2 separate regions of the Homo sapiens genome follow, and region 2 is linked to region 1. A link means that fine-mapping ties the variant in region 1 to the expression of a gene that starts in the linked region. Tissue or cell type: amygdala. Region 1 holds a variant in brackets; the other region holds the start of a gene. All regions are shown on one strand. Distances are from middle to middle.

What was found.
Region 2: it holds the start of ITGAV, and the variant in region 1 is fine-mapped to the expression of ITGAV in amygdala (GTEx, PIP 0.98).

The regions. Positions count from the first base shown.
Region 1 is chr2:186,564,266-186,569,648 of GRCh38, forward strand. No RefSeq gene overlaps it. Among named protein-coding and RNA genes, the nearest start is that of ITGAV, 23 kb to the right of the region's middle. The variant C/T (reference allele first, on the strand shown) is at 2,608.
Region 2 is chr2:186,587,018-186,592,400 of GRCh38, forward strand. It overlaps ITGAV (integrin subunit alpha V), which reads left to right and starts at 3,039. Exons shown (of 30, transcript NM_002210.5): 1 at 3,039-3,506. The coding sequence starts at 3,322. It overlaps LOC124906105 (a long non-coding RNA gene), which reads right to left and starts at 2,879. Exons shown (of 2, transcript XR_007087465.1): 1 at 1,973-2,879. RefSeq lists a silencer at 3,102-3,331 and an enhancer at 3,462-3,521.

The DNA of each region.
Region 1 (5,383 bases):
TGAAGACCTCAACACCTCACTTTAACATTGGACAGATCATCCAGACAGAAAATCAACAAAGAATCATTGGACTTAATCTGCTCTATAGACCAAATGGACCTAATAGATATTTACAGAACATTTCATCCAATGGCTGCAGAATACACATTTTTCTCCTGAACATATGGATCATCCTCAAGGATAGACCATACTTTAAGTCACAAAACAAGCCTTAAAAAATTTTAAAAAGTGAAATTATATCAAATATTTTATACCACAATGAAATAAAACTAGAAGTCCATAACAATATTAATTTGGGAAACTATACAAACACATGGAAATTAAACAATATGCTTCCAAATGATCAGTGGGTCAGTGAAGAAATTAAGAAGGAAATTAAAAAATTTCTTGAAGGCTGGGCAACATACCGAGGCCTCACCTCTACTAAAATAAAATAAATTAGGTGGGCATGCTGGTTTGTTCCTGTAGTCCCAGCTACTTGGGAGGCTGGGGAGGGAGGATCACTTGAGCTCAGGAGAGTGAGACTGCAGTGAACCATGATCTTGCCACTCACTGCATTCCAGCATGGGCAAGATCCTGTCTCAAATTTTTTTTCCTTGAAAAAATGATAATGCTAATAGAGTATACAAAAACCTATGGGATACAGTGAAAGCAGTACTAAGAGGAAAGTTTATAGCTATAAGCACCCACATCAAAAAAGTAGAAAAATGTCAAATAAACAACCTCACTATGCATCTTAAAGAATGAAAAATGCAAGAGCAAACCAAACCCTAAAAGTAGAAGAAAAAAAAAATAAAGATCAGAGCAGAAATAAATGAAATTGAAATGAAGAAAACAATGGAAAATGTCGATGAAGTGAACAGTTGGTTTTTTGAAAAGATAAACAAAGTTGACAAACCTTTATCCAGACTGAGAAAAAGAGAGAGAAGACCCAAATACATACATTCAGAGAAGAAAAAGAAGATACTACAACTAATACCGCAGAAATTCAAAGAATCGTTAGAAGCTACTATGAACAGCTATATGCCAATGAAATGGAAAACCTAAAAGAAATGGATAAATTTCTAGACACACACAACCTACCAATATTGAACCATGAAGAAATCCAAAATCTGAACAAAACGGTAACAAGTAATGAGATTGAAGCTGTAATAAAAGTCTCCTAGCAAAGAAAAGTCCAGGATCCAGTGGCTTCACTGCTGAATTTTACCAAACATTTAAAGAAGAACTAATACCAATACTACTCAAACTATCCTAAAAATATAGAGGAGGAGGGAATATTTCCAAATTCACTTATGAGGCCATTGTTACTATGATACCAAAACCAAACACACAACCAAAAAAGGAAACCTACAAGCCAATATCTTTATGAACATTAATGCAAAAATCCTCAGCAAACTACTAGCAAACTGAATTCAACAACACATTAAAAAAGATCGTTCATCATGACCAAATGGGAATTATTCCAGGGATCCAAGGATGGTTCAACATATACAAATCAATCAATGCGATGCATCAAATCAACAGAATGAAGGACAAAAATCACATGATCATTTCAATTGATGCTGAAAAAGCATTTGATAAAATTCAGCATCTCTTCATGATAAAAACCCTCAAAAAGCTGGTTATAGAAGAACATACTTCAACACAATAAAAGCTATATATGACAGACCCACAACTAATATTATACTAATTGGGGAAAAAATTAAAAGCTTTTCCTCTAAAACCTGGAACAAGAAAAGGGTGCCTACTGTCACCATTGTTATTCAACACTGGAAGCCCTAACTAGAACAATCAGACAAGAAAAAGATATAAAGGGCATCCAAATTGGAAAGCAAGAAGTCAAATTATCCTTGTTTGTAGATGATATGATCTTAATATTTGGAAAAACCTAAAGACTCCACCAAAAACTATTAGAATTCATAAACAAATTTAGGAAAGTTGCAGGACACAAAATCAACATACAAAAATCAGTAGCATTTCTATATGCCAACAGCAAACATTCTGAAAAAGAAATCAAGAAAATAATCTCATTTATAATAGCTACAAATAAAATAAAATACCTAAGAATAAACTTAACCAAAGAAGTTAAAGATTTCTACAATAAAAACCATAAAACATGGACGTGAAGAGGACCCATAAAAATTGGAAAGATATTCCATATTCATGAATTGGAAGAATCAATATTATGAAAATGTCCATACTACCTAAAACAATCTACAGATTCAGTGCAATCCCTATCAAATTACCAATGATAGTCTTCATAAAAATAGAAAAAATCATTCTAAAATTTATATGGAACCACAAAAGACCCAGAATAGCCAAAGCCATCCTGAGCAAAAGGAAAAAAACTGGAGGAATCACATTACCTGGCTTCAAATTATATTACATAGCAACCCAAACAGCATAATACTGACATAGTAGCAGACATACAGACCAATACAACAGGATAGAGAAAAAAAAGAACCCAGAAATAAGTCCATTCATCTACACTGAACTCATTTTCAACAAAGGTACCAAGAACATACATTGGGGAAAAGACAGTCTCTTCAATAAATGGTGCTGGAAAAACTGGATATCCTTATGCAGAAGAATTAAACTAGACCC[C/T]TATTTCTCACCATATAAAAAATCAAATCAAAATGGATTAACGATTTAAATCTTTTTTTTTTTTTTGAGATGGAGTCTCTCTCTGTCGCCCAGGGTGGAGTGCAGTGGCGCGATCTCGGCTCACTGAAACTTCCACCTCTGGGTTCAAGTGATTCTCCTGCCTCAGCCTCCAGAGTAGCTGAATCACAGGTGCCCACCACCATGCCTGGCTAATTTTTTTTGTATTTTTAGTAGAGATGGTGTTTCACCATGTTGGCCAGGCTGGTCTCAAACTCCTGACCACAAATGATCCACCTGCCTTGGTCTCCCAAAGTGCTGGGATTACAGGCGTGAGCCACCGTGCCCGGCCTAAAGACTTAAATCTAAGACCTCAAACTATAAAGCCACTAAAAGAAAACATTGAGGAAAGTCTCCAGGACATTGGTCTGGGCAAAGATTTTTTGAGTAATACTCCCCAAATACAGGCAACTAAAGCACAATTGGGCAAGTGGGATCACATCAAGTTGAAAAGCTTCTGCACGGCAAAGGAAAGAATAAAGTGAAGAGAAAACACACAGAATAGGAAAAAAAATTTGCAAGCTACTCATCGTTCCAGGAATTAATAACGAGAATATATAAGGAGATTAAACAACTCTATAGGGAAAAAAATCTATTAATTCTGTTAAAAATAGACAAAACATCTAAATAGACATTTCTCAAAAGAAGACATACAAATGGCAAACAGGTATATAAAAAGGTGCTCAATATCTTTAATCATCAGAGAAATGAAAAACAAAACTACAATGAGATATCATTTCACCCCAGTTAAAGTGGTTTTTATCCAAAAGACAGGTAACAACGAATGCTGATGAGGTCGTGGAGAAAAAGGAACCCTCGTACACTGTTGGTAGGGGTGAAAATTAACATAGCCACTACGGAGAACAGTTTGGAGGTTCCTCAGAAAATTAAAAATAAAATACCATATGATCCAGCAATTTCACTACTACCTATATACACAGAAGAAAGCAAATATATTAAAGAGATATCTGCACTCCCACGTTTATTGAAGCACTATTCACAATAGCCAAGATTTGGAAGCAACCTAAGTGTCCATCAATAGATAAGCAGATAAAGAAAATGAGGCACATACACAATGGAGTACTATTCAGCCATAATAAAGAATAAGATCCTGTCATTTGCGGCAACATGAATAGAACTGGAGGACATTATGTTAAGTGAACGAATCCAGGCACAGAAAGACAAATTTTGCATGTTTCCATTGATTTGTGGGAGCTAAAAATTAAAACATTTGAACTCATGGAGATAGATTGATGGTTACCAGAGGCTGGGAAGGATAATGTGTATGGTGGGGGTAGTGGGGATGGTTAATGGGTACAAAAATATTGTTAGAATTAATAAGGTCTAGTATTTGATAGCACAAAAGAGTGACTAAAGTCCACAATAATTTATTGTACATTTTTAAATCACTAAAGGAGAGTATAATTGGAATGATTATAATACAAGGAAATGATAGATGATTGAGGGGATAAATGCCCCATTTATCCTGATGTGATTATTACATATTGTATGCCTATATCAAAATATCTCACATATCACATAAGTATATACACTTACTATGTACTCATGAAAATTGAAAATTAAAAAAAAATTTAAGTAAATGTGAGAAAAAAAATTACATGAATGTCTTCTTTTGAGAAGTGTCTGTTCATGTCGTTTACCCACTTTTTAATGGGGTTGTTTTTTTCTTGAAAATTTGTTTAAGTTCCTTGTAGATTCTGGATATTAGAACTTTGTGAGATGGATAGATTACAAAAATTTTCTCCCACTCTGTAGGTTGCCTGTTCATTCTGATGATAGTTTCTTTTGCTGTGCAGAAGCTCTTTAGTTTAATTAGATCCCATTTGTCAATGTTTGCTTTTGTTGCAATTGCTTTGGGTGATTTCATCATGAAATCTTTGCCCATTCTTATGTCCTGAACGGCATTCCTAGATTTTCTTCTAGGGTTTTCAGAAACAAAGCTCAACATCACTGATGATTAGAGAAATGCAAATCAAAACCACAATGAGATACTATCTCATGCCAGTCAGAATGGTGATTATTAAAAGTCAAGAAATAATAGATGCTGGCAAGGTTGTGGAGAAATGGGAACACTTACACACTGCTGGTGGGAGTGTAAATTAGTTCAATCATTGTGGAAGATGGTGTGGTGATTCCTCAGAGATCTAGAACCGGAAATACCATTTGACTCAACAGTCCCATTACTGGGTATATAACCAAAGGAATAGAAATCATTCTATTACAAAGATACATGCATGTGTATGTTCATTGCAGCACTATTCACAATTGCAGTGACATGAAATCAACCCAAATGCCCATCAATGATAGACTGGATAAAGAAAATATAGTACATATACACCTGGAATACTATGCAGCCATAAAAAAGAACAAGATCATGTCTTTGCAGGAACATGGATGGAGCTGGAAGTCATTATCCTCAGCAAACTAATTCAGGAACAGAAAACCAAACACCACATGTTCTTGCTTATATGTGGGAGATAAGCAATGATAACATATGGACACAAGGAAGGGAACAACAAACACTGGGGCCTCTCGGGGGGTGGGGTGGGGGGAGGGAGAGCATTAGGAAAAATAGCTAATGGATGCTGGGCTTAATACCTAGGTGATGGGTTGATAGGTGCAGCAAACCACCATGTCACACGTTTACCTATGTAACAATCCTGCACGTCCTGCACAGGTACCCCCAAACTTAAAATAA
Region 2 (5,383 bases), 23 kb after region 1:
AAGTTTCTAAAGCCACTGGGTTAGTCTGCTTCATAGTTTCCTAATTGAAATGTATGTTTGCTTTTTTTTGTTGTTAGACAGTCTCGCTCTGTCACCCAGGCTGGAGCACAGTGGCCCACAATACCACAATATCTCGGCTCACTGTAGCCTCTGCCTTCCGGGTTCAAGCAATTCTCCTGCCTCAGTCTCCTGAGTAGCTGAGATTACAGGCACACACCACCATGCCTGGCTACTGTTTTTTCTTTTTTGAGATGGAGTCTCATTCTGTCATCCAGGCTGAAGTGCAGTGGCACGATCTTGGCTCACTGAAACCTCTGCTTCCCAGGTTCAAGTGATTCTCCTGCCTCAGCCTCCCAAGTAGCTGGGATTACAGGTGCCTGCCACTGCACCCAGCTAATTTTTGTATTTTTAGTAGAGATAGGCTTTCACCATCTTGGCCAGGCTGGTCTTGAACTCCTGACATCGTGATCCACCCACTTTGGACTCCCAAAGTGCTGGGATTACAGGTGTGAGTGAGCCACTGCGCCCGGCCAATTTTTGTATTTTTAGTAGAGACGGGGTTTCACTGTGTTGGCCAGGCTGGTCTTGAACTCCTGACCTCAGGTGATCCACCCACCTCGGCCTCCCAAAATGCTGGGATTACAGGCATGAGCCACAGTGCCTGGACTATTTGCTTTTTTAAAAAAAACAAATTCCTTGATTTTCAAGACTGCTCATTCAAAATAAACTCATAAAGAATGGCTCAACAGTAAGTGCTTTCAGTAAGTTGTAGCCCTATTTGGGGGTGTGTTGTTCACCCAAGTTTTGGTGGGTGTACATGTGTTGTCATTTCGTGGGCTTCTTCTTTTCCCTGGTCCTCTCACATTTCTTCACTCCACCTTGGTCTGTCGGACCCCTGTCCTGCGATCAGAAGTTGAGGAGTGGGAGACTTACTGGATCTAGCCAGAGTTTAAACTCTTCTGTCTTCCTTACCTGGATGGATTTCCAGGTAGACTGGTTGTCATGTTTTTAAGATATAAAAGACCCTTTGGGTTTATGCATACATATCAATAGCCTCTTTGGTGTATTAGGAAAGAAGGTGAGAAATAAGCTGTATTTGCATTTATGTGTAAGGATTTGTGTAGGATTTCTTCTCTCAATCAGTAATTTCTTTCAGGCAGATGCTAGACCATGCCTTGTAAAACATGCCAAAGGTTTTGCTGCATATCTTTTAGTCAAATTTAAAAATGGAAATATTTAATGCATTTTTTTTTTGAGATGGAGTCTCACTCTGTGGCCCAGGCTGGAGTGCAGTGGCACCATCTCAGCTTACTGCAGCCTCCGCCTTCCGGGTTCAAGCAATTCTCCTGCCTCAGCCTCCTGAGTAGCTGGGACTGCAGGCGCATGCCGCCACGCCCGGCTAATTTTTTGTATTTTAGTAGAGACGGGATTTCACTGTGTTGCCCAGGCTGGTCTCGAACTCCCGAGCTCAGGCAATTTGCCGGCCTCAGCCTCCCAAAGTGCTAGGACTACAGGCATGAGCCACCTCGCCCGGCCTTTTTTTTTTTTAAACACAGGGTCTTGTTCTGTCACTCAGGCTGGAGTGCAGTGGCAGGCTCATGACTTATCATAACCTGGAACTCCTGAGCCTAAGCGATCTATCTACCTGCCTTAGCCTCCGGCATAGCTGGGACTACAGGCATGCACCACACTCCCAGCTAATTTTTAAATTTTTGTAGAGATGAGGTCTCCCTATGTTCCCCTGGAACTCCCGGTCTCAAGCAATCCTCCTGCCTCAGTCTCCCAAAGTGCTGAGATTGCCAGCATGAGCACCTGGACCTGGTCCAATAAATATTACAAATTCGAATTAGGCATTTCACTTTCATTTATATACATATCCTTTCACAGGATTATTTGATAGTTATTAATGTATATTATGATTGAGTTTTAATAGTTACTTTGGGAAAACAGAAATTACTGTTCCAGTACTTACTTGTAAGTTGTAAGTCCACACAATGCACTTAAACTTCACCTTGTTCAACAGATTCTGTAGCACATGAAACACTTGAAATATGGAAGAGTCACTTCTCTGGGCACTTTGCTCATTTCGTCTGCTATTCATTCACTGATTGGACATTTTATTGATCGACTACTATCTGCTTGGCAAGGTGCTAGAAATAAGAACACTAAGAAAAAGGTCAAGGTTCCTGTCCTCAAGGCCCTCTCTCTCAGTCCAGTGTTGTCAAGGCTTGATGAAACACACCAGTGGCAAACAAGCACGCGGGGCCTTATTTCACCGGTGTGCGGTCCTTCTTCCAGCTCTGAAATTATGTCTATCCAAACATCCTAAATCAACAAATCAGTGTTTCTAAATCATACAACCGCAGCTAACAAACTGGGAATAAGGCTTCGATTATTCTGACTTGATTTAAAACGATCACTGCCAATTCTTTGCCCTGCGAATCCTTTCTTTGACTACTAAGTTAAGCTTTACATACCTCACTTGCAAGAGGCTATGCTGGCTTTCTGGAAATCCGTAATTAAGTTCAGTGTTTGTGGAATGGAGTGTAATTAACGACCATTAATTAACAGGGTTTCGTTCGTGAGAGCCTGCCAGGCTAAGCAGCAGAAACACGAGAAACTGATAAAAAGCTTTCCTCATTTTTAAACAACAGTCGCACGGAAGTTCCCGGCGGGACAAGGGAACGTGGGTGCCCTTGCTACTCCCGTGGACGCGGGTAGATTGGGACGCTGGACCGTATCTCCCCGCCCCCGCCCCCACGCCTCCTCAGGTGCTCAGCCTGAGGCCTTCGTCCAGGAGCGCTGCCGCTGACCCAGGCTCAGGAGCTGGGGGCCCCTGCACAGACGCCCAGGTCTCGGGACAGGCGGCGACTGCACTCACGGAAGTACGCTGAGCTCTCCCCTGTAGAAGGGCGCCTCTCCTCCCCCACTTCCTCCTCCAGCTCCACAGCAGCCTCCCGGGCCGGCTCCTCCTCCTTCCAGGTCTCCTCCCAGTGCCGCCGCGGCTCTCAGGCCTGAGGTGCGGCGCTCACCCCGGCAGTCCCCAGCCTCAGACGCTGCGTGGAGCGGCGGAGCCGGAGGGAAGCAAAGGACCGTCTGCGCTGCTGTCCCCGCCCCGCGCGCTCTGCGCCCCTCGTCCCTGGCGGTCGCTCCGAAGCTCAGCCCTCTTGCCTGCCCCGGAGCTGTCCCGGGCTAGCCGAGAAGAGAGCGGCCGGCAAGTTTGGGCGCGCGCAGGCGGCGGGCCGCGGGCACTGGGCGCCTCGCTGGGGCGGGGGGAGGTGGCTACCGCTCCCGGCTTGGCGTCCCGCGCGCACTTCGGCGATGGCTTTTCCGCCGCGGCGACGGCTGCGCCTCGGTCCCCGCGGCCTCCCGCTTCTTCTCTCGGGACTCCTGCTACCTCTGTGCCGCGCCTTCAACCTAGACGTGGACAGTCCTGCCGAGTACTCTGGCCCCGAGGGAAGTTACTTCGGCTTCGCCGTGGATTTCTTCGTGCCCAGCGCGTCTTCGTAAGTGGCCGCACTTGGAACTGGAGCCGGCCCCCTCCCCCACCGCGCGCACCCACCCAGCGTTTCTCCATTGGGATTGATTTCCGAGAGATCCCGGCGTCTGTCTGTCTCACCCATCCTACCTCTCAGAGTGGTTTATATCCTGGGTGGAGGAAATATTTGGGGAAATGAACTCCCTTTGGTACCCATCACCCAGTTACACCCCGCTTCTCACCTCTTAAAATTGGTTAGGGGCAGCGGGAGAGCTTTGAAGCAGACCTGTGCTTAAAAATCGGGGAAAGTGGGAAATCAACAAAGGCTGGTCTTGCCGGACTCCCCGCCTCCTGTGCCAGTGTCGAGGATTTGGTCAATATCATCCCCGAACTTCTTTTTCTCCTCTACCAGTTAGGCTTCTTGGTAGCCTTTTTCTGCTTTACAGGCTTAACGCCCGTCCTTTTCAGTCTCCCTAAACAAGCCCTCCCCCACTCTTTCCGCCTCTGTCTGATTCTGTTTCTCCTTACTCCTTTTGCAGACATTCTGATGACTTAAAATGACCATACTGTCCTATTGAATTCATTGTGTCTTATCTCTGGGACTGTCAGACATTTGCACATTTGAGGTTGAACAGATGAATTGAATGTGTCATCTGTTCTTTTTATAGTGATTCACTATTTAGGTCATTGTTCAGAAGGAACAAGGGTGTTTGCTGAGTTTTCACTCGCTGCAGGTCATTTGAATACTGCAGTATTTAATAATTCAGTTATGTTTTCAAGTTGCCAACGTTCCGCGTTGCAAGGGCCGTCAGGATTTATAACAGTTATTGCCATTATTGTGTTAGAAATTGTCTCCGACTTTACTGAATGCTGACATCATTCTCACCACCCCACCCCCATGTTAGCGTTAGGAGTACTGTTTTAATGAATGTTGACTGTTTTTTTAATGATGTTTAAATCTTGTTTTCAAGAGAGAAACTGTTCTTAGGGTGCCTTCTAAACGCTTAGACCTTGTAACAACATATTTTTGTTTCCATATTTTCTGTATAAGATATCCCTTCGGGGTGAAGTGGAGGAAAATTTTGACGGTTAGTACGTGGATAGGACCATCTTCTACTACACACATGCCTAATTTGAGGGTGGTCTCAATGGTTTTCTATGACTGTTAGGACACTCAGCAGAATTTAGTCTTAGTGTTTTTCTGAATGTTACTGAGTATCATTCATTTTGGTAACAACCTTTGCAGCAATACATAGATTAGATGCAGTTAATGGAAACTTTGTTAGTGGAGACATTATTTTATGTAGCAAGCTTAGTTTTATTTGTTGTTAGCAGTTACAGTGCTTTCTGTGAGACCTGGAGCACAGATTTTCCAACATGATAAAAATAATCATTATTTAGGCAACATTTACCAATTTCACATTCCATTTAGTCATTTTAGTCAGCATTATCTTTTTATTTATTGTTTTTAACCACAGGGGTGAATACCAAACGTTATCTTTAAACATTTTTGTTTCCAGATACTTTCAAGTGTATACCTTCATGAGACAGAACATTTTAGTTGCTCCCAAGGGTTCAATGTGAGATATAATTTGTAGAGAAATTCTAATGATTTTGAAAATATATGTCTTCAGTCAAAAATTAGCATTTAAATACTTCAGGCCAGGCACAGTGGCTCACACCTGTAATCCCAGCACCTTGGGAGGCCAAGATGGGCAGATTGTCTGAGCTCAGGAATTTGAGACCAACCTGGGCAACATGGTGAAACCCTGTCACTACAAAAAAATACAAAAATTAACCGGGCATGGTGGTGCACACCTGTAATCCTCGCTCTGCGGGAGGCTGAGATGAGAGGATTGCTTGGAAAGTTGAGGTTGCAGTGAATGGAGATTGTGCCACCACACT